4 linked regions of the Homo sapiens genome follow. The protein of the gene in region 4 interacts with the protein of the main gene of each other region in a pairwise test. Each region holds a gene or a part of one and is shown on either strand. Other genes may lie near its edges.

Region 1 (7,025 bases), on a different chromosome or scaffold from region 4:
TTGTATTTTTAGTAGAGACGGGGTTTCACCATGTTGGCCAGGCTGGTCTCAAACTCCTGACCTCAGGTGTCCTACCTGCCTTGGCCTCCTAAAATGCTGGGATTACAGGAGTGAGCCACCATGCCCGGCCAAAAAAATAAGTTTTTAAAGAATTAAAGGTCATCCTGGCTAACACAGTGAAACCCCGTCTCTACTAAAAAACACAAAAAAATTAGCCGGGCGTGGTGGCGGGCGCCTGTAGTCCCAGCTGCGCGGGAGGCTGAGGCAGGAGAATGGCGTGAACCCGGGAGGCGGAGCTTGCAGTGAGCCGAGATCGCGCCACTGCACTCCAGCCTGGGCGACAGAGCGAGACTCCGTCTCAAAAAAAAAAAAAAAAAAAAAAAAAAAAAGAATTAAAGGTGTTAATTTTATTTAGAAGCCTTACTGAAGACTACAGTCGGAGGCCTATAGCCTGAGAGCAGCCCTTTAGAGAGGTTCAGTTGAACTGTTCTGATAGTGGGGGCCATGTGCTCTATCCTGTATTGTCTTCAAAGCATCTTTCCAGAGAGCTGCACATTGTCACAGAGTCAGGGACTTTGTGAAATTATGCTGACAACCAGAAGTGAGTAAACGTGGCTTCTTACATTTGCTACGTTGTCTCACAGTACTTAATAAGTATGCAATATGTAAGTAAATACTATAGTACTATTGCAACTCCTGATTGTTTTCTTAGACAAGGAATTGGGCCCAATAAAAACCCTCTTGGTAGGCATTCAGGCTTCGTGTACCATGAGCTTTCCTAAGGGTATCCTGCCACTCTTGGGGAAGGCATGATAGATGAGGGGAGTAAGGATAATGGAACTCTGGGTACAGGGTTCCTGGGGGCTAACTTAGAGGTAGACACAGGCAATGCTAAATATTTGGGATTGATTTTATAGAGGTTGCTAGATTGTGAATTTCCTTAGTAAGGGCTAAGGCATTGATATGTAATGTCACACTTGGCTCCGAGGCTGGGTTGTTGGATCCATGTAGATGAAATCAGGGAGAGAAAGGGCAGAACGGAGTAATTTAGAAATGTATTGATTTGTATTACTCTCTGTTGGCTTGCTATTCAAGGCAGTGGAGAACTCAATCACATAATAATCTGCAGCAAACCACAGATCATCCCAGGGAATGAAGTTTTAACATTCGCTGGCTCCCTAACTCCTCACCCAGCCTTTACATTCACTGGCTGTTCAGTCCATGCCTGGACATCTTAATTTGAATACAACATTTTAAATCCATTTTTCTGTCATCATCTTGCACTAACAGACAATTCTACACTAAGCCTATGTTTATGAATATTTCTCAAGAGTACATGTACACAGCCTTCAGTATAAGGAAAACTGGAAGTATGACATACCTCCAGTTGTCATACTCCTTGGGCCCCTCTTAAATTCTCATTAAACTGCAGGATAGGCAAGTCAGAGGTGAATCTCAAATACGAAATTCTTACCGGAAAGGGGTTCCAATCCAGACCCCAAGAGAGGGTTCTTAGATTTCTCGCAAGAAATAATTCGGGGCAAGGCCACAGTGCAAAGCAAAAGCAAGTTTATTAGGAAAGTAAAGGAGTAGAGAACAGCTACTCCATGGAGAAGAATGGCTTGAGCTGCTCCACCAAGGGTATTTAGAGTTACTTCTTGATTATATGCTAAACAAGGGGTGGATTATTCATGAGTTTTCCGGGAAAAGGGTGAGCAATTCCCAGAACTGAGATTTCCTCCCCTTTTTAGGCCATATAGGGTAACTTCCTGCCATTGCCATGGTATTTGTAAACTGTCATAGTGCTGGTGGAAGTGTCTCTTAGCTTGCTAATGTATTATAGTTAGCTTATAATGAGCAGTGAGGACAACCAGAGGTCACTTTCATCACCATCTTGGTTTTGGTGGGTTTTGGCCGGCTTCTTTACTGCACCCTATTTTATCAACAAGGTCTTTATGACCTGAATCTTGTGCCAACCTCCTATCTCATCCTGTGACAAAGAATGCCTTAACTTCCTGGGAATGCAGCCCAGTAGGTGTCAGCCTTATTTTACCCAGACCCTATTCAAGATGGAGTTGCTCTGATTTAAACGCCTCTGACAAAATGACGACCTCAAAACAATCCAGCTTTATGGAATACCTCCACAAGAAAGAAAGTATACTTAGCTATAGAATTTTCTCCTTGCATCCAACAGGCTTTGAGATGTCAGATGTTTCCTTCCTGTCCCATGATTAATCCTAGCCATTCCTCTTTCTTGTCTGGCTCCACTACTCCTTACCATCTAATGCCTCGCCACCATTTTGATATTTTGACTAAGTGAGCTATGAAACACACCTACTGGATATGAAAGTATAAGTTTCTGATAACAAAACATCAACATGGGATGTGGAGGAAGTGGGTAGGGTGGCATTAATGCAGCAAATCCTGGAATATTTTAAATCTTCATTCTAAATTTAGTAAAAATATAGGATAATTTTCCTGCCATCATTTACTTATAAAATTAAAATTTTAGAAAATAAAAATAATATTTTCCTCTTTTTAATCACAGATTATGGCCTGTATTGGAGACAGATGAAGTCGTAAGAAGTCTGATAGATGGAATACTTACCAATAAGAAAATGATTTTTGTTCCATCGTATATCAATATCTTTCTGAGACTACAGAAGTAAGTACAGCACAGAACACCCAAATACTAAAACACCAATAGAGCTTTTTTTTTTGCTTTTTTTTTTTTTAGACAGAGTCTCACTCTGTCACCCTGGCTGGATTGCGGTGGTTGCAGTGGCATGATCTTGGCTCACTGCAACCTCCGCCTCCTGGGTTCAAGCAATTCTCATGCCTCAGACCCCCAAGTAACTGGGATTATAGGTGTGTGCTGCCACACTACACCCAGCTAATTTTTGTATTTTTTGATAGAGACAGGTTTCCCCATGTTGGCCAGGCTGGACTCGAACTCCTGACCTCAAGTTATCCTCCTGTCTCGGCCTCCCAAAGTGCTGGGATTACAGTCATGAGCCACCATGCCTGGCCCAATAGAGCTATTATTATGGAGCATCTTTCAGTTGTGAAAATTGGCATGGAAACTCTCCATCCCTGGGGAGAACAGTTATTTCCTCTGTTATTTTCCTACCCAGTCTATAAAAAGAGAGTGATTCATTTTCTCTACCAAATCTACTGTCTCTGCCCAAACTTTGCTGAAGACTATTCTAACTAAAGGAAACACAGTTTAAAAAGAATGCAATATAGTGAAGTAGTTAATAATAAAGACTCCATTTTTAAAAGTCTGCTGGAAGTTTGGTTGGGATTGCACTGAATCTATAGAGCAATTGGGGAGTATTGACATATCAACAATATTGAGTTTTCTAATCCAAGAACATAATATCTATTTTTAAAATCTTCTTCAAAATCTTTAAATCTTTAAATTGTATTTTGTAGTTTTTGGTGTTTAAGTCTTGCACATATTTTGTCAGATTTATTCCAAAGTATTTCACGGGTTCTTTTTTTTTTTTTTTTTTTTTTTTTTGAGACAGAGTTTCACCCTTGTTGCCCAGGCTGGAGTGCAGTGGCGTGATCTTGGCTCACTGCAGCTTCTGCCTCCTGGCTTCAAGTGATTCTCCTGCCTCAGCCTCCCAAGTAGCTGGGATTACAGGCACCTGCCCCCTCGCCCAACTAACTTTTTGTGTTTGTAGTAGAGACAGGGTTTCACCATGTTGGCCAGGCTGGTCTCGAACTCCTGACCTCATGTGATCCACCTGCCTCAGCCTCCCAAAGTGCTGGGATTACAGGCATGAGCCATCATGCCCAGCCCTATTTGACGGTTTTTGACGCTAATGCAAGTGGCATTTTAAAAAATTTTATATTTCCCATTGTTTGTTGTCAGTATATATTGGATTTTTGTAATTTGATCTCATATTTTGCAGTCTTGCTAAATTGCTAAACCTCTTTTTGCTAAACTCGATAAGCTTTTTTTTTTTTGGTAGATTCCTGGGCCTCTAATTTTCTTTATGGGAAAGTTTTTAATTACAAATTTAATTTCTTTAATAGCTACATGGCTATTCAATTTACTTATTAATTCTTGGTAATGTGTGTCTTTCAAGGAATTTGTCCATTTCATCTAAGTTGTAGAATTTCTTTGGCATAAATTTGTACATAACATTCCCTTATTATCCTTTTAATGTCTTTAGAATGTCTTATTTATTTATTTATTTATTTTTATTATATTTTTTTGAGACAGAGTCTCGCTCTGTTGCCCAGGCTGGAGTGCAGTGGCACAATCTTGGCTCACTGCAAGCTCCGCCTTCTGGGTTCATGCCATTCTCCTGCCTCAGCCTCCCTAGTTGCTGGGACTACAGGCGCCTGCAACCATGCCCAGCTTATTTTTTTTTTTTTTTTTTTTTTTTTTTTTTTTTTTTTTTTTTTTTTAGTAGAGACGGGGTTTCACCCTGTTAGCCAGGATGGTCTCGATCTCCTGACCTGGTGATCCGCCCGCCTCAGCCTCCCAAAGTGCTGGGATTACAGGCGTGAGCCACCAAGCCCAGCCTATTTATTTATTTAGTAGAGACAGTCTCACTTTGCTGCCCAGGCAACAAAGGTTTTGAATGCCTGGCCTCAAGCAGTCCTCCTGCCTTGGCCTCCCAAAGTGCTGGGATTACAGGCATGAGCCACTGCACCTGGCCAAATGAATATGCTGATAATATCTTCTTTATAAGGATGACATAAGAATAAAATAATGTAATACAAACAAAGCCCCTGTCACTGAAAATGTATAGACTTCAAATGTTAAAGTCTTAGAGAACAGAATTTATATGAAATAGCAACAGCAACAATTTCCCAGAGGAAATACTCTCTCAGCTTTCTTCTGAGGAGCAGTTTCTAAATTGAAATTGTATCAGTGAGAAGATAACTATACTAACTTCATAAGCCTTGGGCCTTTTTGAAACAAATCCATATAAACTATGAACAAACTTGAAATAGAACAATTTGAGAACAGGGTACAAACTGCATTGGTGTATCAATTTCAGTATTTGGTTTTAGCTTAAATAGACTGACTTGAGATAACATAAGGAGAACCTTGACCCCCAAGCAACATCATCTCGCGAGTTGACTAGGCCGGGTGTGGTGTCTCACGCCTGTAATTCCAGCACTTTGGGAGGCCACAGCAGGCAGATCACTTGAGGTCAGGCATTCGAGACCAGCCTGGCCAACATGGTGAAACCTCAGCTCTACTAAAGATACGAAAATTAGCAGGCATAGTGGCCTGCACCTGTAATACCAGGCACTCGCAGGAGAATCCCTTGAACCCGGAAGGCGGAGATTGCAGTAAACCATGATTGTGCCACTGCACTCCAGCCTGGGCAACAGGAGACTCTGTCTCGGAAAAATAAATTTTTTAAAAAAATGAAAAAAAATAAAAGTTGACTAAATTAGTGTCTTGGTACTAAGCACTGTAGGAAGTGAGTTTCATGGAACCCCAACTCTCTTGGGGCCCAAAGCAAGTCATATTAATATTGAAAATTACATGCATATACATGCATATGACCAAGGTGATAAAAACAATTATTCTGCCTGAGTTGGAGAATAGTATCCCAGTAAAATAAACAAGAGTCTCAAAGTCTTTTGTATCCTTTGAAGCTGTCATGGTGGTTTGTAACTAGGCAACAGGTATATATTGTTAATCTTCTTTGCATTTAATTCCTTTTATAGAGAGACACAATTTTACGAGCAGATGCAATTACTAGCATGAAGGTTTCTTTGTGAGGGTAGTTAAAAGGCCCACATGAGCTCTCTTCTTATCCTTGTCCTTCTTTCAGCCAGATCTTCCCTGCCCCTTTGCTCATTCCATCTTTCACCCACCTACCCCCAAAACAAGGAAGTAAATCTTGCATTAGTCAACAATACCAAAGTGATTTTCAATATGACTTTCTCTGCAGAATGTTATTATTTCTGCCTCTTTACATTCACATACTGTCTTCCTTTTTTTTTTTTTTTTTTTTTTTTTTTTTAGATTGGGTCTCACTCTGTTGCCCAGGCTGGAGTGCAGTGGCTTGATCTCAGCTCACTGTAACCTCCACCTCCTGAGTTCAAGCAATTCTCCTGCCTCAGCCTCCTGAGTAGCTGGGATTACAGGCATGTGCCACCACACCTGGCTAGTTTTTTTGTATTTTTAGTAGAGACAGGGTTTCACCATGTTGGTCAAGCTGGTCTCGAACTCCTGACCTCATGATCTGACCACCTGTGCCTCTCAAAGTGCTGGGATTACAGGCGTGAGCCACCGGGCCAGCCACTCTCTTCCTTTCAGTTGCCTACTCATCTCTTATGCATTCCTGGACATCAGTTGTCCTTTTGAAGCTTTCCTCCACTATCCCAGCCCATGTGAATCCTCCTTCCAGTTATAGCCCTTAATTCTAGATGGCTGATATTTTTCAATAATTGTTTTAAGATGACCATTTTAGCCTATCAGCTAAACAATATCAAAGACAATAGCTATTTTTCAAGTACTTTAGTTTACCTTATTATAGAGTGCATAATAGATATTCAGTAAATAGTAAAGGAGAGGTGAAGGCTTGCATAGAATGGATTCTGGTGGTGTCTCTTGGTGAGCTTTTAGCATCAAGATTAATCAGCAGTTTCAGCAATGAGCTCAGACCTTCAGTTTTAGATCTTTACTCATATCAGATAAGAGAGTGAGAAGAGTGGTATGTATCAGTGCTTTATTTATATTTGCATCCAATTTGAACTATGAATATTACAAAGGTGCACACATAGGTTCAGACAGATTGATTTAAAATGACCAAAGATGACCTGTCGTAAGCAACCTGGGTATCTTAAGATGCACTCCTTGGAGAGGGAATGTTCCTAAAAACATTTTCAGAGGGACGAACTGTATGAAATTCAGTAAAACATAAATCATGAGGAAAACTGATTACTCTCTTTTTGACATGAAATGAGAGTTTTAATGCATGGTTACGATTATTAACGTACTCCGCTGCAAGACGTTAATAAAGTTACTGTTTTGCAGGCTAGAA
Region 2 (7,352 bases), on a different chromosome or scaffold from region 4:
AATTGCTTGAACCCAGGAGGCAGAGGTTGCAGTGAGTCGAGATCATGCCATTGCACTCCAGCCTGGGTGACAGAGCAACATTCCATCTAAAAAATAAAAAATAAAAATAAAAAATAAAGGAAATATGGAACATCTACTCTGATTTTCAAACTATATATAAGTATCCTTCAAATAACAACTAGAGGAAAAATTCACCAAAATTGTAATAGCAGTTTTGTTAGAGGTGATAAGAAATTCTCTCTTCAAAGTACTCACAATTTTATATGTCTCCATTTAAAAAGCATAATGTTATTTATTTATTTATTTTATTTTATTTTTTGAGATGGAATCTCACTCTGTTGCCTAAGCTGGAGTGCAGTGGCATGATCTCCGCTCACTGCAACCTCCGCCTCCCGGGTTCAAGCAATTCTCCTGCCTCAGCCTCCCAAGTAGCTGGGATTACAAGCATGCGCCACCATGCCCGGCTAATTTTTTGTATTTTCAGTAGAGGCGGGGTTTTACCATGTTGCCCAGGCTGGTCTCAAACTCCTGACCTCAAGTGATCTGCCTACCTCAGCCTCCCAAAGTTCTGGGATACAGGCATGAGCCACTGCGCCTGGCCATAAGGTTCTTTAAAAAAAATCATTCTAACTTCTAATCATTACTGGGAGAAAATTTAAGATTAAAAATCCTCCAAAAGGAGAAAGGGATGTACTAATATTTGTTTTTTTCTAATCTTAAGAGTGAGAAATTGATTTTTAAAGTACATTTAATCAATACATTTATAACAGAATATGCACGAGAAAGCCAGAATACACCAATTTCATGGGCAAGTGAGAGTAAGCATATTTAAATAAAAAATTGGAAACTCTATTCTAAAAGCAGTTTAAAAATCAAGTCAAAGCTTGTTCTTAGTTTAGGGCCAGGAATTAGTTTTAGAACTGATGCAATCTGAAACCAGAGCCAAGAAGTGTTTACCAAAGTCTTTACCCCAAAGGGAGACACTTCTAATTCTCCAGAAGGGACACTACACTGTTAAGATTGTCTTGAGACTTGGGCTTAGGTAACTGATAGGGGTACACATATTAAATTCATTTTGAAATACCATTTTCCTTTCCAACAAAAATGAAACCTAAATCCTTTTTCACAATATGCAATTTGTAATCAAGGCCTCCTCTACCGAAGGGTTTAATTAGTTTCTTGTGTATTTGCTCCTCTTTCCTGGGAATGACAGGATAAACGGGAAGTTTATGTCTCCAGGGCTTATTCGTTACAGAATGGAAAAATGAAGCTATGGACTTTCTCAAGGATGATTTAGAGAGAAGGGATCATTAAATTACTGTACTCCCCTCCTTATCTTCTCCAGAAGGCTAACAAAGTGACTGCACAAGCTGCACTCCATCCCAGGAATACAAACAGTTCTTGGCCAGTATTTGACTAAAAGTCAACTGCAAGCTCTGAGTCAGGTTTTGATCACACACTGGAGCCTGTTCCTGCAAGCAAAGATCATCTTAATGCCTCTCTTAACACCTGTTGTGTCTGCTCCCGTTTCCGTCCTGATAGTCACAAAGCTCCAGAGCTGTAAAATCAGAGAGAAAGTCTACCATTTCATATGACCTAAGCACCACAAGGTGTTGGGTAGTACACAGCCAAATATTGAGCACATTAAGAAAGAAGTGCTCCTCCTGAGGGAGATCTTTGTGGTAATGGAATAGTTCTGTATCAATTACTGTGGTTATATCAATCTACACATGTTAAAATGGCACAGAACTATAAATACATTTTGTGCCACTGTCAATTTCCTGGTTTTGATACTCTAGTTAAGTAAGACGTAACTATTGGGGGAAACTGGGTAAAGGGGACATGTGACCTCTCTGTACTGTTGTTGCAAATTCCTGTGAATCTGTACTTATTTCAAAATCGAATGTTTTTATAAGTGCACCTTGTGTACATTAACATACTTTGAACATTGTGCAATAGAACAAGTCTAATGCAAACACAGCCTACTTTCCAAATATGAGGTCTTCAGCCACACCCCAAGAGAAGGCCTGAGGTTGGGAATGCCCTTGCACATGCTTTTCCCTCTACCTGGGATACCCTTTCCCACCTCCTGCACCGCTTATTCCCCTTCCCCAGGCTGGCTCCTTCTCATTTCTCAGGCGACATCTCAAAGCCCCTTCCTTACAGAGGTGTTCCCCTGTCCTAACCTTTGCTGTTCTCCGAATATTCCACTCCTTTCACAGCTTCCTTCACCATGTGTAATGATTCAATTACTTGTTTGTGGCCCATCTCCCAACTAGAGTATAAGGTAAACTCCACGAGGCCCTTAGCACACTCCCTGCCACATGGAAGATGCTCCAAGAAGATTTTGTTTGAATAAATGACCCCACCGACTGAATGGACTCCCTTGTGGCCAAGGGGACTCCAGAAAACTTTAAAACTGAGTTCCCAGCCAATGACAGGACAGAAGGTCAGACTCGCCTCATTATAACTTCATCGTATTGGAGTTTAGACACAACAGCTGACCAGCATTAACGTTAAAACACAGATCATAAGACTGACAGAACAGACTGTTTGTGACAATAAGATACCAAATTATAAACAAATTATACCTAAGGTCATGCCAGGCAAAGGTTAAGGCACACATCCCTTCACTTAGAGAATAAACTGTGTTCTAACTGCCACAAGGTTGTTCTCTTTCTCTAGCAGCTTAACAAGCACTGGCCTCGAGATAAGCAATATTAAAACAATTTGCAGCTCCACCAGATGTGGCCTAATGGAACCCCTATTCCACCAGCCATCATTACAGCTTTAATTGGACAAGAGGCTGATTTCAGTAACTTTCTCCTCATAGGAAAACTACCGACCATGGACTGGCTCTGGCTAGTTTACACAGACTGCATACTTGCACACCTTCCTGTCCTGAAAAGACCTTTTGACGCATGGGGTCTAACTGTAATACATGTATTGTTATTATTTTTTAGAGTCCATCAGGCTGGAGTGCAGTGATCTGATCATACATCACTGCAGCCTCCAACTCTTGGGCTCAAGTGATCCTCCTGCCCCAGCCTCCTGACTAGTTGGGACCGCAAGCACACACCACCCCACCTGGCTATTTTTTTTTTACTTTTTGTAGAGATGGGGACGTCACCATGCAGGCCAGGCATTTAACATTTAATTGGTAACTCTTCACTCCAAAATGAACATGGGTTGTATGTTACATGCATGTTTGCTCAATGGGCATGCGTCAGGACCACCCTCATGAATATTCATAGCTCCTCCTGTCACCTGCTGAATATGCATGTCTACCCAAGCTGTTCAGCATAAAGCCGCTACTCCAACCCCTCCTCCAACGAAATGCCTGTCTCTGGTCCTGGCCATTCTCCAGCCTGCGGAATGGCCACCTTGCAGGCTGTAACCCCTTACAAGAAATAAAGTCTCCTCTCCTGTTTTTTTGTTTTTTGTTTTGTTTTTTTGAGACGGAGTCTCGCTCTGTCACCCAGGCCATCTCGGCTCACTGCAACCTCTGCCTCCCAAGTTCAAGCGATTCTCCTGCCTCAGCCTCCCAAGTAGCTGGGATTACAGGCGCGCGCCACACGCCCGGCTAATTTTTGTATTTTTAGCAGAGACGGGGTTTCACCATGTTGGCCAAGCTGGTCTCGAACTTCTAACCTCAGATGATCTACCCGCCTCGGCCTTCCAACGTGCTGGGATTACAGGCGTGAGCCACCGCGCCCGGCCTCCTCTCCTTTTCCAAATTTATACATTTTGATTTTCTTAACACACCTCACTCGAGTTCGTTCACTTCGGCTGCGGCGTGATCTGCCGGCCCTCTCAGCTCAGGCTGACCTCAGCGCCCTCACTTCGGCCACTTCTGTGTCCCTCAGTCTTCTCCCCTCAACTCGGACCTCGCGCCCTCATGACAGGGCGCCATTTTCTTCCCTCTAACTCCTCAGCCCAGAGGAGGCGCCTTGGTCCCGTACCTCTGCCCGGCAAGGCGACTTTTCTTCACTTGCACTTTTGCCTCGGGTCATCCTCTGCTGCTACCTCCCCACTATCCTCACCATCTGCTCCACGTCCCGTGGCTTCCGCCCTCCCTTCCGGTGCAGGGCCCCGGCCTCATACCCACAGCCTTGGGGGCTCTCGCCCCTCAGGCCACGCCCCTCAGGCCACGCCCCTCAGCCCACAGAACTAGCGGGAAGTGACTGCGAAGCAGTCGCGCCGTGGAGGGACAGGAGGGCGGGGATTGGGAGGTGGGTCCTCCTCGATCCTGGGCGTTGATTGGCCAACTCTCACGAGGGCGGGACCTCGATTGGGGGCGGGGCGGCAATCTGGGTCTTGTGCCTCTGGCTCCTCAGGGCATTCCCGGCGGCTCCGGGTTTGGCAACGAGGACGGGGGAGTGCGACTGCGTCTCGGGCAGCATGGCCGAGAAGCGGCACACACGGGACTCCGAAGCCCAGCGGCTCCCCGACTCCTTCAAGGGTGAGTCCCGCGTCCCCTGACCCTCCCCCGTGGACCGAGCCCCCGCCCGCAGCGTGCGCTCCGAGGTCTGACAGCCGGGCTCCTGGCCAGTCTCCGCTGCTTCGGGCTGGGCGAGATCTCAAAGCCGCGGCTCCTCCCTAGTAAACTGAGCATCACGAACCCTGTTTGGCAGACTGAGGTCACGATGGAGGGGTGGCGGGCTGCCAACGGCACGTTTCCCATCGCACGGGCCCTGGTTATCTCGCGGCCGCCAGATGCCAAGCCCCATGCCAGGGCTGCACTATCTCGTGTCACGCACGCGGACTAGGAAACGCAGAGGGAACTGGCAGCCAGCGAGGCGGGGACCGGGACCCCACATCTCACCCTTTGCCCACTCCCCTTCTTTCCCGACTCACTCTCTCGAAGGCCGCCTCCTCCACCCAGCCCTGGCCTGGCCCCAGGGTGAACCCCCTCCTCCCCCAATCCCACCTCCCGAAACTTAGACCGATTTGCAGAAGGAAGAAGTCTCTCTGGCTTTCTTCTTACCTCTCTTTCTAGCTCCACTTTCTGCCCCATTTTTCCCCCTCCGCTTTCCTCTGCGTTTTGGAGAACTCTCCTTCCCGGCTTTTGTTCCTCGCCAGGAACCCTGAGTTCTCCCACCCTCACCCCCACCCTCCCTTCCCAGTCTTCAAGGCAGGAGCTGTAAGTGGCTCAGTCTCGTTCCCCTGTGGAGGAACTGGTACTCTGGGGAGGGGGTTCCAATAAAGAGAGATGGTGGACCTCTCAGGAGTCCTGGTACCCACTCAGGAGCTCTTAGTGATCCAGAGGAATTACAGTGTTTCTAAAGATGGAATTTCAGGCAGGATGGCAGTGAAAGCAATTTAGAGGGCTGGGTGGTCCTTTCCAGGACCCCTCAAAGAACATGACATTGGAGTCATCTATTCTGATTATTTGTAAAGCCAGCTTTATCCACAGCATCTTAGCTATAAGTTCCATTTCCCTTGTCCAGGGATCCCTGTGTTCAGTTCCTTCCCAGGAGCATCAAAGGAATTACAGAAATCTTTATTCCTCACTTTTTGTCTACTAATAACGTTGCAGGTTATCTTCCCAAATGGAGAGTGTAACAGGGAGGAGTTGATGAGAATAATGGCAACCACAACAACAAAAATTGAAACTAAATAGGTCAGGCTCCGTATCACTTTTTTTTTTTTTTTTGAGACGGAGTTTCGCTTTTCTTGCCCAGGCTGGAGTGTGATCTCCGCTCACTGCAACCTCCGCCTCCCGAGTTCAAGTGATTCTCCTGCCTCATCCTCCCAAGTAGCTGGGATTACAGGCGTGCACCACCATGCCCAGCTGATTTTGTATTTTTTGTAGATACAGGGTTTCACCATGTTGGTCAGGCTGGTCTCAAACTCCTGACCTCAAGTGATCCACACGCCTCGGCCTCCCAAAGTGCTGGGATTACAGGCATGAGCCACCGCGACCCCCCCAGTGCCACGTATTTTATGTATATATTATTTTATTGAATCTTCACAACAGATGATGTGGTAGGTATTCTTATCCCCATATTATACTTGATGAAACTGATAGTCAAAGAAGTTAAATTACTTAAAGTCACTTAGTTTGTATTTAAATCTAGATTTGACTGATTCTAAAACTTGAATAGGGAAAAAATGGGTGGTAACTGCCTCTTCGATAGTTAGTTGTCTTTTCCTAGATAAAAAGGTGGGTATTAGCATGCATTCCTCAATACCCTGACCTCCTGGTGGGAAACTGCAGTGGCAAATCTGCTTGGAGTTCTTTGAGAATCAACATGATCTTTGTACTTAATGTTTATTTACAGACAAGTGGTCATAGATGAGTTTTTAACTTCCAGTTTTTTTCCTTGGTTCTACACTTAACTACTGTTTAGACAGAAATCTTTCAAGATCTAATGAAAACCACCACTTCCTCTCAAAAATTAGACATACAAATAAAATTTTGCATAGTCTGTGTTTTTTTAATGTAAACCTAACAAATTTGACGCTACTAGGAAAGGTATTGCTGGAATTTATTAAATAGAGGTTATTGAATGCTTTCCCTGTGCCAAAAGACAGTTTAAGTGCTTTACAAACATTATCTAATTGCATTCTGTAACAGCTCTACAAGGAAAAAGTCATTATTCACCATTTCACAATAAGGATACTGCGGCTCACATGGCAAAATCACAGTTTCTAAAATTTTCAGCCCTGTTTCAAACCCCGGCTATCTGATTTTCTGAATCATTTTCCCTATCCCAGAGATGGATACCAAAATGTAGAACCTTGTCTAACTTCAGTACTTTACTTAAGTTGAGAGACAATAAACAAAAAAAGCCTGGAGGAACACAGCTTCAGTGATGACTTCCAGAAGGCTGCTTGTGAAAGAAGCAGTGGAATTTTAAAAGCCTAAACTCTGCCTCTTTGTCTTTACTGAGAATTAGTCCTAGGTAGGTAAATAGCACCAGGCCTAGGGCAAGACTAGTTTTTCTTAAAGGCGATGCATTCACTTTGTAATGAAATAATGCAAGTAATTGCAAAGAATGTATCACTGTAATTAAGAGCCATGTCAACAAATAAAACCCTTTGGGAGACTGATTGTTTATTTCAGTTGTTATAGCCAATCAGATTGGAGAGAACTTTGTAACTTCTTCAATAATTAATCTGAGTTATTCCATCAGTGGTCATAAATTAACTTATGGAAGACCAAGTCTACAAAACTGGCATATTTATTCATGATTAAATAGATTTTTGGTGCCATTTGATGGTATAAATTTTACCTAGTAAAAGACAGTCACTGATTCCTAGTCATCTTTGAGGGAAAAAAAAGATGTTGATAAAGTGATACAGATGGAATTCAAAATCAGTTTTTTTAAGAAGGCATGGAAAAGCAA
Region 3 (7,227 bases), on a different chromosome or scaffold from region 4:
TTGAAGTCTACAAGTCATGTCAAAGGCAAAGTCAACAACTGGAAGAATTTCACCCTTGCTCTCAAGGGTACTTTCAGAAACTTCACTGATTTGCATTTGGTAATCAAAGCAGCAGACAATTAGGAAAAGCATCAACCTAATATTTTCTCTACTTGTCTAAAGGCACTTGACAAGCTTTGTTTCTTAAGAGAATGAGAATGTCAGAAACCCAAAGAAAAATGCTCATAGGGTCTAAAAGGAACCTGGCAGATGCTGACTTACAACTGAACCAAAATCTTTTAATTGCTTTTTAATTGCATAAATTTCTGCAACATGAGTAAATTCTAACAGGATTCCTGCATACTCAAGAAAATTATAATAGTAAATAAAATTAGCTGTGTTCTAAACTTATTACTGATATCCTCTGGTAGTGTGCAAATTAGTCTTCACTCCTGAAAGAACAATTAAGAAAATTATTGAACAGTTAAGAAAATATACCTAACTTTTAGTGGACAACAGCATATAGTGATTGAATAAGCAGATGAATAAAATAAGCCCTAAGTAGTAAATGTGCTCTTGAAAATTAATTGATTTTTTTTTGCCAATTTCTCAGCCAGAGGCAAATTTAAATGTTCACTGTTTGGACCATAATATGAGGGAGAGCTAGAGGTCAGTCAATAATAAATATTTATTGAGCAGTTACTATGTGTCCAGAAAGACTTTTGGGGGATAGAGGTATATGTCAGTTAAGCTTAAAATCAAGTTGTAAAGAGAAACTTAGCTAGCAAATGCCAGACAAGTTTAAGTATTGCTGACTTAGAGCAATTAGGGAAGTTAGGGAAGTTGCTAAAGAAGGGAGAAATGGATAATTTTGCAGGAGTGTCCAATCTTTTGGCTTCCCTGGGCCATATTGGAAGAAGAATTGTCTTGGGTCACACATAATGTACAATAACACTAACGATAGCTGATAAGCTAAAAATCACAAAAAAATCTCATAATTTTAAGAAAGTTTACGAATTTGTGTTGGGCAGCATTCAAAGCTCTCCTGGGTTGCATGCAGCTCGCGGGCCACGTGTTGGACAAGCTTGATTTAAAGGTAGAGCAATATAGTAAAGAGAAAAGTGAGAATAAGAAAATTTTTGTAGACAGCTATAGAAACAGACTTCAAAGTGAATTCCAAAAGTTCACATTTCCTATGTGGGTTCTGAGAAATAGTTGCAAAACCATGAAGGGTAGAGAGAGATGAGAGAGAAAATGCAAGAGAGAGAAATACCATGTTTTGAACACTATTCCTACTTCTTTTCATTTGACAAGTATTTATTGAGTACCTACTCTTGGGATCTCGGAACAATTTGAGACCCTGGGTGTGTGGTGATATTAAACAATGTGCTCTCATGCAGCTTCCACTTAGTGCAGAAAAACTAGTTGAAGGACAAAGACATACACTGCTTAAGGAAACAATGTAGAAAGGGAATACAAAGAAAAATATATATCTGTAATATTCTTATAGCACACATTCTTTACCATTTAAAATGATTACTATTTGTTCTTAGGCCTACTATTGTCAAACATTTACTTATTAATTTCTTCAAATTTGATCTTTATTATGTGCCCTGATTTTGAATCAATCAAGTTAAATTACTGACTAATAAAAATATGACATTCTGTTATGAAAGCAAGTTGAAACGATTTAAAATTGCGTATTTGGAAGAATACATCTCAATGAAAAAAAAGAGTCTGAAATATGTATTATACCAAAAGAACAGAATTTTCAGAGAATTCAGATATGGATTTTTTTGTTGCAAATCTTCTCATAAATTCTCCACAGTACTTCAGCTCTTCTCATTCCAATTTTCTTATTATTTTTCTGTTACTATGATAAACATCACAGTCACCTCTGACTTTTCCCTTTTCCAATATTGACTCTGTATAACATTCCTTTTGTATGTATTTGTATAGTGCCCACTGATGTTACCTATTAGCCCAAGACCTCATTCCTTCTCTAATTAATGTAACAGTTTCCAGCACCCTCTTCTGCCAGTTACAGAATTTTGGAGCCCAGAGGGACTATACTCAAGAAATGCAACCCTTAAAGCCATTATATTCTCTGCTTCTGGATCAATCCTCTTAAAACAGGCTCTTATTGTGTAGTTTTCTGATCAAAATCTTTCCATGGCTTACCACTACATACTGAGGACTCCTCAGCTTCTTTTGTTGAGCATTTAAGGCTGTCTATGCATTTTTTAAGGCCCCAATATGCTTTTTCAACTTTGTATTTTTCATTCATTGATTCAAAAATATTTTTTGAGCCCATTTATAATTTAAATGGTGCTAGGGCCTTGCTACAAAGATGAACAAGTCACAGCCTTGCCCTCTAGCAGTCCCCAGTTTAAGGGAGGGGGTACAGGAGTGGTGGGAATGGGTGTGACGAGTACATGAAAATCTCATTAAGTATTGAGAGTAGGTGGTAACAGCGCCTGCCCAGGGAGCACTGAACTCAAGTGTCCAATCCTGCTGTGTAGCCAACTTGGCTTCATCAATGCTGACGTGGGCTGTCTTTTCTCTGCTTTTCTGTATACCCTAAATATATCTAGGCTTACAAAGCCTAGATCAGATGCCAAATAATCCATGGATTTTTCCTTAGTCTCCTACTCTTAAATATCTCTCATTTGAATTCCCATGACATTTTAAAATTTCCTTTCCTATTCTAATCACATCCCTGCTTGTATTAGAGAATATCTCTCTTACTACAACTGTCTGCCTCTTAAAAGCAACAACTATGACATATATTTATATATCTCTAGACACATAAACCTAAAAAAAGCTTACAAAGGTGTTCAGTAAATGTTCCCCAGGCTAAAATAATGAATAATAATGTGTACAAAGTCAAAGGTAAAATAGAACAATGGCGGGAATTGACTATACAAACTGATTCTTCATAGACTTGTAAAACTATTATACTACATAAATTACTGCAAAAATTAATGACAGTAGAAAGGAGGACTACCACTAACAAACTAGGATCCTGGGCTTACAGGGGTTAAGGAGATCTAACCACAAGGAGAAAAAAAAAGTTCTTAATTTGCCTTCATTAAAGACTAATTTTAGGTCTTTGGCTAATTAAATGAATACATTGTTTATGCTCCATACACTTTCGGCTCGAGTCTTGGAAAATACGTGGAACTTCCAAGAATTAAAGTTTCCATTAACGCAAGTGCCAAAATCAGGAGGCTTGACCTGTGGGAAAAAGCACATTTGTCTTCGCTGGCTCCTTTTCAAAAAGCTATAGATGTTTATTGTATAACCTTTTTTGTGCGCAAATGCTGTTTTATCATTCAGACCCATCTAGACAGAGGAAGAAGCTGCAACATTTCAGAAAGCAACCAATTACTGAGGACCGAATGACCTGGCCTTATCAGCGCTGAAGTGTTAACGGCCGTCCCTGTTTGGGGTAAAATTTCTTCATTGGGAGCCAGTCAGTGGTTTCTTTTTTTCTTTCTTTTCCTTAAGGGGCCGGGGGTGGTGGGGGGCAGTCGCTGTTTTGAGGTGTGTGTGTGTTTAATTCCCTGAGAACTGGCTTTGGCTGGTGAAGAAATACTTTACTATAGTGGGTTTCAGAACATCTTCCACCTGTATCTCTCCTAGCAGGTGGAAATTTAATGTAAATAATTGTGTGTGCCCACAGCTTGAACGCTTTGGAAGAATATTTTCTGACCTCTCTGCTTTTATTCAGTCCGAAGTAGCCCAGTTATCATGAAGTAGCCCAGTTATCTACCTAGATTACAAAATAAAATTAAAATTAAATCTCCTTACGTCAGTGAACTTGGAGTCAGAAAGTTCTCTCCCCTGAGCAGAGAGCCTTTTAAAGACTTGTGTGTCACGCTGGCGGCAGGGGGTCGCGGCTACTGGAAAGGAGCTGGCTCTGCAGGTCCCGCCCTCCCCCGGGTCGTCCCTCCCTCTGGCCTGCTCCCTACCTCCCGGGGACTTGCGCTCGCCCCCTCCCCGCCCGCCCCCTACTCCGCGACAACGTCGGCTTCCGAGGTCTGGCGTGCGTCAAAGCCCTAACTGGGAGGCTGATTTGTGGAGCATCGCCCCCCCGCCCCCGCCCCCCCAGTCCCTCCTCCTTCCACTGAAGTGGCCAAGGGAGTTGAGCTGAGCAGGGGGAGGGGAAGATCTACACCCATCCCCCTTCCTCTAGCCCTCCCTGCGTTTAGATTCAGTTGCACCTTTTATTATTTTAACTCTTCTCCTTAGGACACGCAGCCCCCAATTTGTCCCTCCGGCCTGGGCGGCCCCTGGTCCCGCGCGCCAGCATGGGAGAGCGAGGGACCTGCCCGCGGCCCGCCGGCGTGTGCAAGGAGGTCCAGCCGCCGCGCCCGCTACCCGGAGTCTGTAAGTTTCAAAGCTGCTCCGGGGGAGCGGAGGGGGGAGGCTGTCCGTGTTCCCGTAAATGATTTAAAATGCAAAACACCGCAGAGGCTTGCAGTGATGGATGGACTTTTCGGGGCACACTCCCTACTGCAACCCGCAGGCTGTTGTCTTGGGTTTTTTCCCCCCCGCACCTTGTATATTTGATTCCTTCGTTGTAAAAAAAAAAAAAAAAAAAAGTTTTCAATTTATAATATTATGATTTCCACAGGAACCTTTTTAACTCTTTTTAGATGCAACTCATACTTCTTTCGCATTTAAAATAATTCTTATAACTTATAAATTCTATAGCACACCACTTATTATAATTTTGTCAGATTACACGTTATTTAGACTGCGCAAGGAGTCATGGCCTTTGCTTACTTCTAAAAATAACGGAGGAAGAATTTTCTCTCTTTACTTTTAATATTGCTACATCATCTAAGTACTTTAATAAGTAGATCGTGCACCCAACTGGTCTTAATCTTCATGACTGACGCCACGTGCTGTAGCCTTGCACTAATTTACAGACGCGGTTAATCGCAGAGAATTATCTTTGAGCCTGCTGTTTACCGGAAGGCTCCTGGTTTTGTTTAACTAAGGCTATGTCCATATGTACTCAGAATAAGAAAAATTGAAACAGTTCTTTTTATTAAAACCAAGTAATTTTTCTGAGATCCCAGAACTCAAGCACAAGCTAGATTCATGTTTGGGTTAGTAAAAATCACATTTTTGGTTTTGCATGTCACCTCGCACATGTACAGACATATCCTTGAATACAAGGACCCAAGAGGTGAGGATAGGGTGGGTTTTTAAGTTTTTAATAAATGTTTCCCTCGTGCAGGAGGACGGGTGTCCAGGGACGGAGAGGCAGGTGAGAGGGAGGTGGCTAAGCTGGCTATGGTGACAGGACGATGTTGGCCAGAAAGAGTATCATCCCGGAGGAGTATGTGCTGGCGCGCATCGCCGCAGAGAACCTGCGCAAGCCGCGCATCCGAGACCGCCTCCCCAAAGCCCGCTTCATCGCCAAGAGCGGGGCCTGCAACCTGGCGCATAAGAACATCCGTGAGCAAGGACGCTTTCTACAGGACATCTTCACCACCTTGGTGGACCTGAAATGGCGCCACACGCTGGTCATCTTTACCATGTCCTTCCTCTGCAGCTGGCTGCTCTTCGCTATCATGTGGTGGCTGGTGGCCTTTGCCCATGGGGACATCTATGCTTACATGGAGAAAAGTGGAATGGAGAAAAGTGGTTTGGAGTCCACTGTGTGTGTGACTAATGTCAGGTAAGAATGTAGTGGGATGAGGCAGGGGTTGAAAACAGTAGAGAAAAAATGTCAAAATGCCCTTTCTCTTATCATTCTGTTATTTAATTGAAAGTGAAATAAAGGGTTTGTTTTAGAATCTTCAGAAACAAAAAAGCACAATAAAGAACAACACCTAACACAGTAAGTATTTTTTAAATGCAGCTTTATGGAGAAGAGTCTCTGAAAACCTGAGCTTCAGTCCTTTGGACTAGCCTTGAAAATGTTATACCAGTTATCAAAAAAAAATTGTAATTCAAAGGATTACACAGAGTGCTTTACTCCAAAAGCGCACACATTGAGTTCAGTATGAAAAAGCTGTTGTCCATAGTTTCAGTGCCCACAGGTAAATATCTCTGATCAACAAAAAATATTGTGCTAGTGGACATTTTTCTTGACTCTTCTAACCCATGACATTTTCAGAAATAATAAGAAAAAAATGGGAAGGCCCTAGGGGGAGAGTGTCCTAGATTAAAAATCTACTAAAAAATGAAATAAATATCATCCCTTCTTTATCGAGATTATCATAACATAGCTGATTGCTTGCACTGGATTCAGAAATTAAAAGTTATGCTAAGATTCAGAACTAGAAATTGCTAATTTTTAATGACAATTAGTCCAAAATTTTATGGAAGGGGTTATATAGAAGCAATTTAATTTTGTACTCTTCTTTCAAAGTTTAAATAGAATAGGGACAAGATAGTTCTTAGATTACCTAACTTTGGCTTCTTTCTCATATCATAAGTATCTCAAAGACAGGTAAATTGATTTCAGTGATTCACCTCTCTTGCTTTCACATGGTTTAAGAACATTTAGTTGAGGTGATTTCTTTGTTTTTTTCGGGGGGAGGTGGAAAGAGATAAATTATATCAATTACCAAGATGTTCACTGTGAAGCAAAAGAGTAGTAATAATACTGGAAAATTTTCCAAAACATTTTTAAAAGAACATTTTAAATTCACATAATTCACAAAGCAAAGAAACTTGAAAAAGCATTATGATACCAGGAAACTGTAAAGAATGGGACCTCTAGTGACCCTGAAACCTTATTAAGCTAGCATATCACTGCAGAAAGTGGACCCCAGACTGTGAACTTGTCCACCCTTCCATTTGCTAAGGAACTACAATGCCAGCCTTTCAAGGAGGAAGGCAGCATTAGTGCGCAGAGATCACACACCACAGATTTCAGCTCAAATTCTGAGCAGCAAAAACTGTATTGAATTGATCTATTGCTTTTAATATTGATTAGATATTATTTTCTTTTTTCAAACTTCTCACAAACTGTTGTCTCAAAGAAAATGCAGCTGGAAAACATAGATCATCAGTATACCAGATATAAAGAAAACACAATACTTAAAATATCCGTTAAAACGTTCAATAGATACTCTAAGATCAAATATCATTATCTATAATATATATCTTTAAGAAACTTACTGGCACTGATAATTGGTGAATCATTTTCATATCAAAATAAAGTTTTAATCTAAATTATATGATACTGATAAAAAGAGAAAAAAGAAATGGTAACAGCAAACC
Region 4 (7,682 bases):
CACATACTGCAAAAACAAACAAACAAATCCAGATGCAGACCTTATTGCCTTCACAAAAATTAACTGAAAATGGATCACAGACCTAAATGTAAAATGCAATACTATAAATCTGGAAGATAACACAGGAAAAAAAACTAGACGGCTGAGGGTATGTGTAGGAATTACATGAGATATCTCTGTACCTTCCTCTCAATTTTCCTGTGAACCTAAAACCAATCTAAGAAATGAAGTGTTTAATATTGAATTTAAAAAAAAAATGGGCAGAGATCCAGCTCTAAAACAGCACCCTGAGAAGCTTCTCACCCACTCCCCAGTGGTGGGCAGGGAGGGGAACCTGGTAGAAATATTTTTTAGAAAAACCCATTTAAAGTTTTAAAAACCATTAGGAAAATTGTCCTAAGGACATACATCAAATAAAGACATATTTATTCAGAAAATTTACTAAATTCCTGTAAGAAAAGTGAGGGTCTCTGGTACTTAGCCATGGCCCACTCCTTCCCTTCCCCCATGTTCAGCAGAAGGGAAACTCCACTGTGGGAGGATATGGCCAAGAACACTGGGATCACAGTCACTCCAGCTCCCAGTCAAGGGCTATGGTATCTCCCCTAGGAGGAGAAGGCTGCCAGCGTTTCTCATCTCCCTACCGCTGTGAAGCAGAAACAACATTTGAGGCTAATGAGGCCAAGAGGTCAGGGACTCCCTTCCTCCACTCAACCATAAGGCAAAGGTTCAGTGGGCTGGGAATACTGGATTCCTGGTCACCTTTTCTCCAGCTACTTCATAGTGTGGAGTTTCCATGCCAGGAGAGTCAAGCTGAAGTTGAAAAGACCAGAGGCTACTACGCCACTCAGGACCATGCTCAAAAAGTAGATGGGTCACTCTAGAAGATGCAAGCCACTGTCACCAACCCCAGGTCCAGAGCAGTGGCTCAGATATGTTGCCCAGAGGAGAGGCATGCCTTAAGAACAGAGAGCTCTGAAGCTGTCCTCAAGTAAACTGACTTGTTTGGAACAGAGTGTGGGGAAGTTCAAGGTTAAGAGTACTGCCAAAAACAATGGAGATTTTGACAGTAAGCAATTAAGAGGAAATGAGTAGCTTGATAAAAGCAACAAGCTCAACCATAGGCCAGCTAGGTTGCCAGAGAACCAGTGAAAGAGACAGTAAGAAATAACCCTCTTGGAGTAAAAACAAAAAAAAGAAAAAGGGAAGATAAAGAATAAGAAAGAGGCCAGGCACAGTGGCTCATGCCTGTAATCCCAGCATTCTGGGAGGCCAAGGCAGGTGAATCCCTTGAGCCCAGGAGTGTTAGACCAGCCTGGGCAACATGGCAAAACCCTATCTGTACCAAAAAATTAATAATAATAATAATATAAAAATTAGCCAGGCATAGTGGCACGCACCTGTAGTCCTAGCTACTTAGGAGGCTGAGGTGGGAGGATCACCTGAGCACAAGAGGTCAAGGCTGCAATAAGCTGTGATCGTGCCACTGCACTCCAGCCTAGGTGACAGAGAGACCCTGTCTCAAAAGAGTAAAAAAAAAAAAAAAAAAAAAAAAAAAAAAAGAAGAGGAACAAAGAAATATTTTAGACCTCCAGTTAAAAATGGCAAACTGGATACACATTCAATTTTGCTCCCTCTCAAAACCACCAAAATAATTTATTTTTTAAGGCATAAAGCTGAAAGGATGACAAGAGGAGACCATTTTGGAAGCCAGGAAGCAGAACAAATTTAAACTTCTCAACAAAACAAGAAAGCCAGACATAATGGGACAAAGCCTTCAAAATTATAAATGAAAATTATTTTTAACCTAAAATTTTATATTCAGTCTAAATTTGATCACATTTGAATAGATCAAGTTAGAATGAAGATATTTTCAGTTTTGTAAGTTCTCAAAAAATTCTCTTCAGTGTACCCATTTCTCAGGAAGTTACTGGAGATTTACTCTCCCAGAACTGAATAAATGGAGAAAGAGAAATGCCTTTGATGCAGGAAGCAGGAGATCCAACCTAGGACAGAAGTAAAGGGAATCCCCAGCATGGTGGTGATGTGAGAAGCCAGGACAACAGCTGTGTGTGGTGTCAAGCCCCAGACTGGGGCAGGTTGGAAGGGTCTGAAAAGCCTTTCTCAGGAAGATATAGAATACTTGATGCATAGAAATTTATTCATAGAAGATTTGATAAAGATTTGAGGGTTGGATTAGTGTTAAGCAATAGAAAACCAAGCAAGCAAACAAACTTTTTAAAAAAAGCAATTATCTTCAGAGAAGATCAAAAGTTATGCAGGATAGGAAAAGTAATCTTAATTTTCTACATGGCTCAGCTGCTGTAAATGGTATTTACAGGCACACCTCGGAGATATGTTGCAGGTTCTGTTCCTGACCACTGCAATAAAGCAAGTATTACAGTAAAGCAAATCACACGAATTTCTGGTTTCCCAGTGCATATAAAAGTCATGTTTATACTATAAGGTAGCCTATTTAGTGTGTGATACTGTTATGTCTAAAAAAACCTAACGGACATACCTTAATTTAGAAATACTTTGTTGCTAAATAATGCTAACAATCATCTGAACCTTTGCCTTCACAACATAAGGCCTAACATTTGGCTTATCTTTGCTTTCACAATGCCTTCCTCACTAAGCTTAATCATTTCTAGTTTCCAATTTTAAATGAAAGACATGTGACACTTCCTTTCACTTAAACACTTACAGGCCATTGTAGGGACATTAATTGGCCTAATTTCAGTATTATTGTGTCTCAGGAATAGGGAGACCTAACGTGAGAGAGAAATGGAGGAACGTCCAGTTGGTGGAGTGGTCAGAACACACGGTCAGAACACCAACACAGAGTTGGTGGAGCGGTCAGAACTGAATTATCAATTAAGTTCACCGTCATATGGGTGCGGTTCATGGCACCCCAAAACAATCACAATAGTAACATCAAAGATCACCATAACCAACATAATAATAATGAAAAAGCTTGAAATGTTGCAAAAGTTACCAAAATGTGACACAGAGACATGAAGTGAGCAAAGGCTATTGAAAAAATGGTGCCAATAGACTTGCTCGATGCAAAAATGCCACAAATCCTCAATTTGTAAAAGATGCAGGATCCACAAAGAGAGATGCACAATAAAATAAAGTATACCTGTGCATATTCCAATATTGTAAACACTGAATATTGATTTAAACAAAACTATAACCAATTTGGATAGAGGAGGAAGAGAGGAAGCATACTTCTGGAACATGCAGTGGGGAAGAAGAAAGCTAAATCTTCACCTTTTATGGTTGGGAGTCAGTAGATTATGCCTGAAACTGAAAAATCAAGAAGTACCAATCCAAGCATGTTATTTAGAGAACTGAGGTAAATGCCTAAAGAATGAGCACAGGTGAAAGTGCTTGCCTCTGAAGAGGAAGAAAGGGAGAGTGTGGGACTGCCGATTTTCGTAAGTTTTGAAAAACTGACTCTTTGAAAACTAGGTACATGATAACCTTGAATAAATTTCATAAATATAAATATGTTTCTATCTCTTCTATATCACTTCACTCACCAGTATTGAGTTTTCAGAGTAACTACTGTATATTAGTATCTAAAAGTTAATTTTCTGTCTTAAAGGCATTAATATGGATGCTAGACTAAATATACAGAAATTCCACTTTTCATAATAATAGCTACCATTACTATGGTCCCAGTATTGTACTAAGCACTTATATTATCTCCAGTCCCCAGAGCAACCATGCAAAGTAGGTACTGTTTCCATTTTACAGATAAGAAATTGATGCTCAAAGAGATTAAATAATTTGCTAGTATGTAGCAGAACTCTCTGATCTCAAAGCCTCTGTTCTTCCTTCCTCCTGGATCCCATCACCTCTTTCTAGAGTTTGCGTTTAAAAGAACTAGGGGCAGGGGGAGGGCAATGTAGCAGTTCAAATAACTCCTCCTTTGGAGGAAGGGCAAGGAAGCAGAAGAGAACCGCTGAAGGATTCAGCAATAGCACTAGGTAGCAGTCTCATGTAACCAAGTTTAACCCACAGTTGAAATTTCCAGTTGGTCATGTGAGCAACGGAAGCAATTTTTAAACTCTGGCCAGGAGCCCCAATGCTTACAAAAATAAAAGCTTTGTTCGGCTCTTATTTTGAAATAAAATAGATGTTCCAGCTGCTCCAACATGGGCCTAAACACTGCAGTGAGAATGCTCAGGACACAAAGTTTTGTGTCCAGAGAAGCCCAGTCATCATTACAAAATTGATCTCTAAAAGGGGTTGGGGGACAGACGGCATAGCTGCTTCCCAAGGAAATGAGTAGGAGGTGACCTGGGTCCTGACTGCCACACTGGCTGGGAGCTTGGACCAGATGATCCTGATGGGTTTCTTCTGAATAAAATTCCGGGTTGTGTTTATCTTGCAGTTTAAATCACTGGGAGCTTCGAGAGTTCTTTGGCTCCTTCCCTTTCTGGAATTATTGTGTGATATAATCAAGACATTTACCTGGCTCTTTAAATCAGTTGGTTTGCCGGCTACAGTGTAGGTAAAGAGTATGTCATAATGGACAATAAAAAGTTGTTTACATACCTCATTTCTGAAAAGTCATGGGCCACTGGCAAGTTAGGAAACGAAAGTGAAATCAGCTGATAGTGACATCAGTCAGAACAAATGTACCAAAGTTCAGAGAGCTGTTTACTAGGCACGACTGCGAAGGCAAGGGGGCACCAGCTCAGGACTGCATCTGCCTGCCATTTCCCTTCCACTCCTCCTTTCTGGAGTCTGACATTAGAAAGCCAGCGAGAAGGAAGATTCAAACAACCAACCCTGATTTCCTGCTTCTCCTTTTCATGAGTGTTCCTGTGGTCTCTGCACCTCCTTTCTGTAAGTACCGATCCTGCAAGCATCACAGCTTACCCAGACGTCTACTACCTTGTAAGACAATTTTGTTTTCTTCTCAGATATTTCATGTTCTGGCAATCCACATAGGGGAACTCACTGGTTGTTCAGTATCTGTGACCCTCCCTCGCTCATGTCTGTATAATCTACATAATCTACCCCCTTTACTCTCTGCTCTCCTTCCTTCCACTCTTCGGCATCAACATGTGTAGCTCTGGCCTCAAAGATGATGAAAGTAAGGCCAGTATAACTGGTTAGAAACGATGCAGGGCTGACTGCACACAGCAGAGTCTTGCACGCAGTGTGTACAAGGACATGGCTGTGGCTTGTGCAATACACTGTTCATCAGAAATAGGTAAACAAAAGCAGGTCACCGACCAACACTAACTAAACCACTATTCAATGGTAGTTACGAACACATCATAAAACTTTAAAATACACACTGAAGATTAATATCAACAGAAAAACTTGTGTTCTTGCCTCAAAGAATGGGACCTAAGAGATGTTTAGATCTTATGTTAGTCATTAGACCAGATTGCTCCTCATGCCCCAGTGGAAATCCATGGTGGTATTTTAGTTCTCTTGATGCATATTTTAAGAGATTTTTTTTAATGTGGGCTTAGTTTCACTAATAACTTCCACTATGCTTCTTCGCCTATAAAATCAAAGGCTCCTTTGAAAGAGGGAAAAGACACATATTTCCTTCTTCCCTCATGATAACTGAAGAGCATTTTTCAGTATCCACTTACCATACCCCATTCCCCAAAATCTCAGGTCTGAGACTCAGTCCATGAGATATTTTTTCAATCTTGCACATATTCCCCTTTCTCAACTTTCTTTCCAGCTTAGTCCCTGCTTTATCTAATTACTAAGGCTGTTTTGAATGCCTGTTTTATAAATTTCTTTTTTTTTCATAAATGTAGCACATAATTCTAAAAATATTTTACTGCAAATAGAGAACAATTGCCTGTAATGTCACCACCCAGAGCTACCACAGCTAACATTAACATTTTCAAATACTTCTTTAGTCTCTTTCTCCTATGCCTCTTTATATGGATGTAGTCACACTATGTAGAGTGATTTTATACCTGCTTTTTCTAAAAGATGCATAGTATTTTATCCTTGATACATCATAGTTTACTTCTGATATTGGACTTTCAAGCTGCTTCCCATTTTGTGCCAAAAGTAATGCTGTGCTGAACATTCCTATGTATAAATTATTGACTGGATTTCTGATTGCTGTCTTAGGATAGATTTATAAAAGTGGGCCAAAGAGATATGACTATTTTTAGGGTTTTTAATGTTTATTGCCAATCTGCCTCCCTGAAAGTTTGTACAAATGTTCACATCCACCATCATTGTGTGAGAATGCCAGTTTAACCATATTTTTGGTATCATCAAGTGTTTTTACCTACAGTGTTGATAGGGAAACTCTGGTTTTTTACTTGGCGTATCTTTAATTACATTAGAAAAGTTACAGAATTTTTTTTCATGTTAGTTAACTACTTTGCATTCTTTGTGAATTATCTCTTCATATTTGTCCATTTTTAATGAGGTGTAATGTTTTTTGACAGTTTGCGTAAACATTTTAAACATTAAGTACATTAATCATTTCATAGTTGTGGTAGATATTTTCCATGCTCATTGACTTTTAATTATATTTATGTTGTTTTTGGTGAATAGAAATCTTTATTTTAGAATAGTTAAACCTGTGCAATTCTTTATTTGTAGTTTCCATTTGCTCTTAAGTTCCAAATTTTATTTTTCACTCATAAATCAAATATATCCTTTTTTCCAGATCATTGATTTTTTTATCTGGTTTTACCTTTCACTCTTGGATCCATGTGAAATTTATTTGGGTATGTGGAGTGAGATGAGGACCTAAAATAGTTTTGTTTCTCTTTTCTAGTTAGCTGATCAATTGCTTCAGTATTAGTTAATGAAGAACCCTTTCAGGACTCAAAACAAATATCTCTTCTGAAGAGAGGCTTTCCCTGACCCTATAATCTAGTCATCACTTCCTCCTGCCAGTTTCTCTCTCTCACTCACCCTGTTTATTTCTTTCCCAAACCTTTTCAAAAATTATAATTACCTTTTAAAAAATACATTTGGTGTTTGCCTTCCCAACTAGAGTACAAGCTCAATGAGAGCAGGCACCTGGTTTGTCCTGTGTGGCACTGATTCCCCAGGGCCTCTGATTCAGGGAGTCATCCAAAATGTGTCACTAACAGAGTTACAAGATGAAATGCTGACCCCACGAGTCGAAGTGGGTGGCAAATTGCCTTTGTAATTGCGGAAGAGAGGGCTGGTGCGGGAAAACTAACCATTGACAGCCAAAGGCAGTCACCAGTTTCTGGTACTACTGATTCTCAAACTCTGAATCTTGTGAATCTTGGCCGCCCACAAACTGGACCGTGGAGTCCTGCCAACAGAAACCAAATGAGATTAGCTGGACGTGGTGGCAGGAGGCTGAGGCAGGTGAATTTCTTGAACCCGGGAGGCAGAGATTGCAGTGAGCCAAGATGGTGCCACTGCATTCCACCCTGGGTGACAGAGCAAGACTGTCTCAAACAAACAAACAAATTAAGATGGCTCATTTGTAGACATTTTCTCATTTTTAAGGATTTTCTTCTCCCTCTAAACTTTTTGTAATCTTTGTTCCCACTTGGATTATCTGCTAGTGAGAGCTAATAGTCAACAAAACAATTGCACAAATAGCAAGTTAATATTAATGGAACCATTTAAACAGCTATCTCAATGGCTTGTCATCTGGGTGCCTGGACTCATGCTTCTGACTTTATGTT

What was found.
Region 1: the proteins of TMEM140 (region 4) and HSD17B13 interact in binary tests that used the Homo sapiens proteins (3 or more experiments, as listed by UniProt).
Region 2: the proteins of TMEM140 (region 4) and STOM interact in binary tests that used the Homo sapiens proteins (3 or more experiments, as listed by UniProt).
Region 3: the proteins of TMEM140 (region 4) and KCNJ8 interact in binary tests that used the Homo sapiens proteins (3 or more experiments, as listed by UniProt).

The regions. Positions count from the first base shown.
Region 1 is NC_000004.12:87,305,883-87,312,907, reverse strand, and holds part of HSD17B13 (17-beta-hydroxysteroid dehydrogenase 13 isoform A precursor), read left to right. Parts: intron 1-2,548; coding exon 2,549-2,665; intron 2,666-7,025. UniProt on the Homo sapiens protein: Plays a pivotal role in hepatic lipid metabolism. In vitro, it catalyzes the oxidation of a variety of lipid substrates, including 17beta-estradiol, retinol, retinal, and leukotriene B4.
Region 2 is NC_000009.12:121,367,237-121,374,588, reverse strand, and holds the start of STOM (stomatin), read left to right. Parts: upstream 1-4,338; 5' UTR 4,339-4,401; coding exon 4,402-4,462; intron 4,463-4,622; exon of another isoform or gene 4,623-4,696; intron 4,697-7,352. UniProt on the Homo sapiens protein: Regulates ion channel activity and transmembrane ion transport. Regulates ASIC2 and ASIC3 channel activity.
Region 3 is NC_000012.12:21,771,690-21,778,916, reverse strand, and holds the start of KCNJ8 (ATP-sensitive inward rectifier potassium channel 8), read left to right. Parts: upstream 1-4,210; 5' UTR 4,211-4,371; intron 4,372-5,230; 5' UTR 5,231-5,300; coding exon 5,301-5,674; intron 5,675-7,227. UniProt on the Homo sapiens protein: Inward rectifier potassium channels are characterized by a greater tendency to allow potassium to flow into the cell rather than out of it.
Region 4 is NC_000007.14:135,143,408-135,151,089, forward strand, and holds the start of TMEM140 (transmembrane protein 140), read left to right. Parts: upstream 1-4,664; 5' UTR 4,665-4,863; intron 4,864-7,682.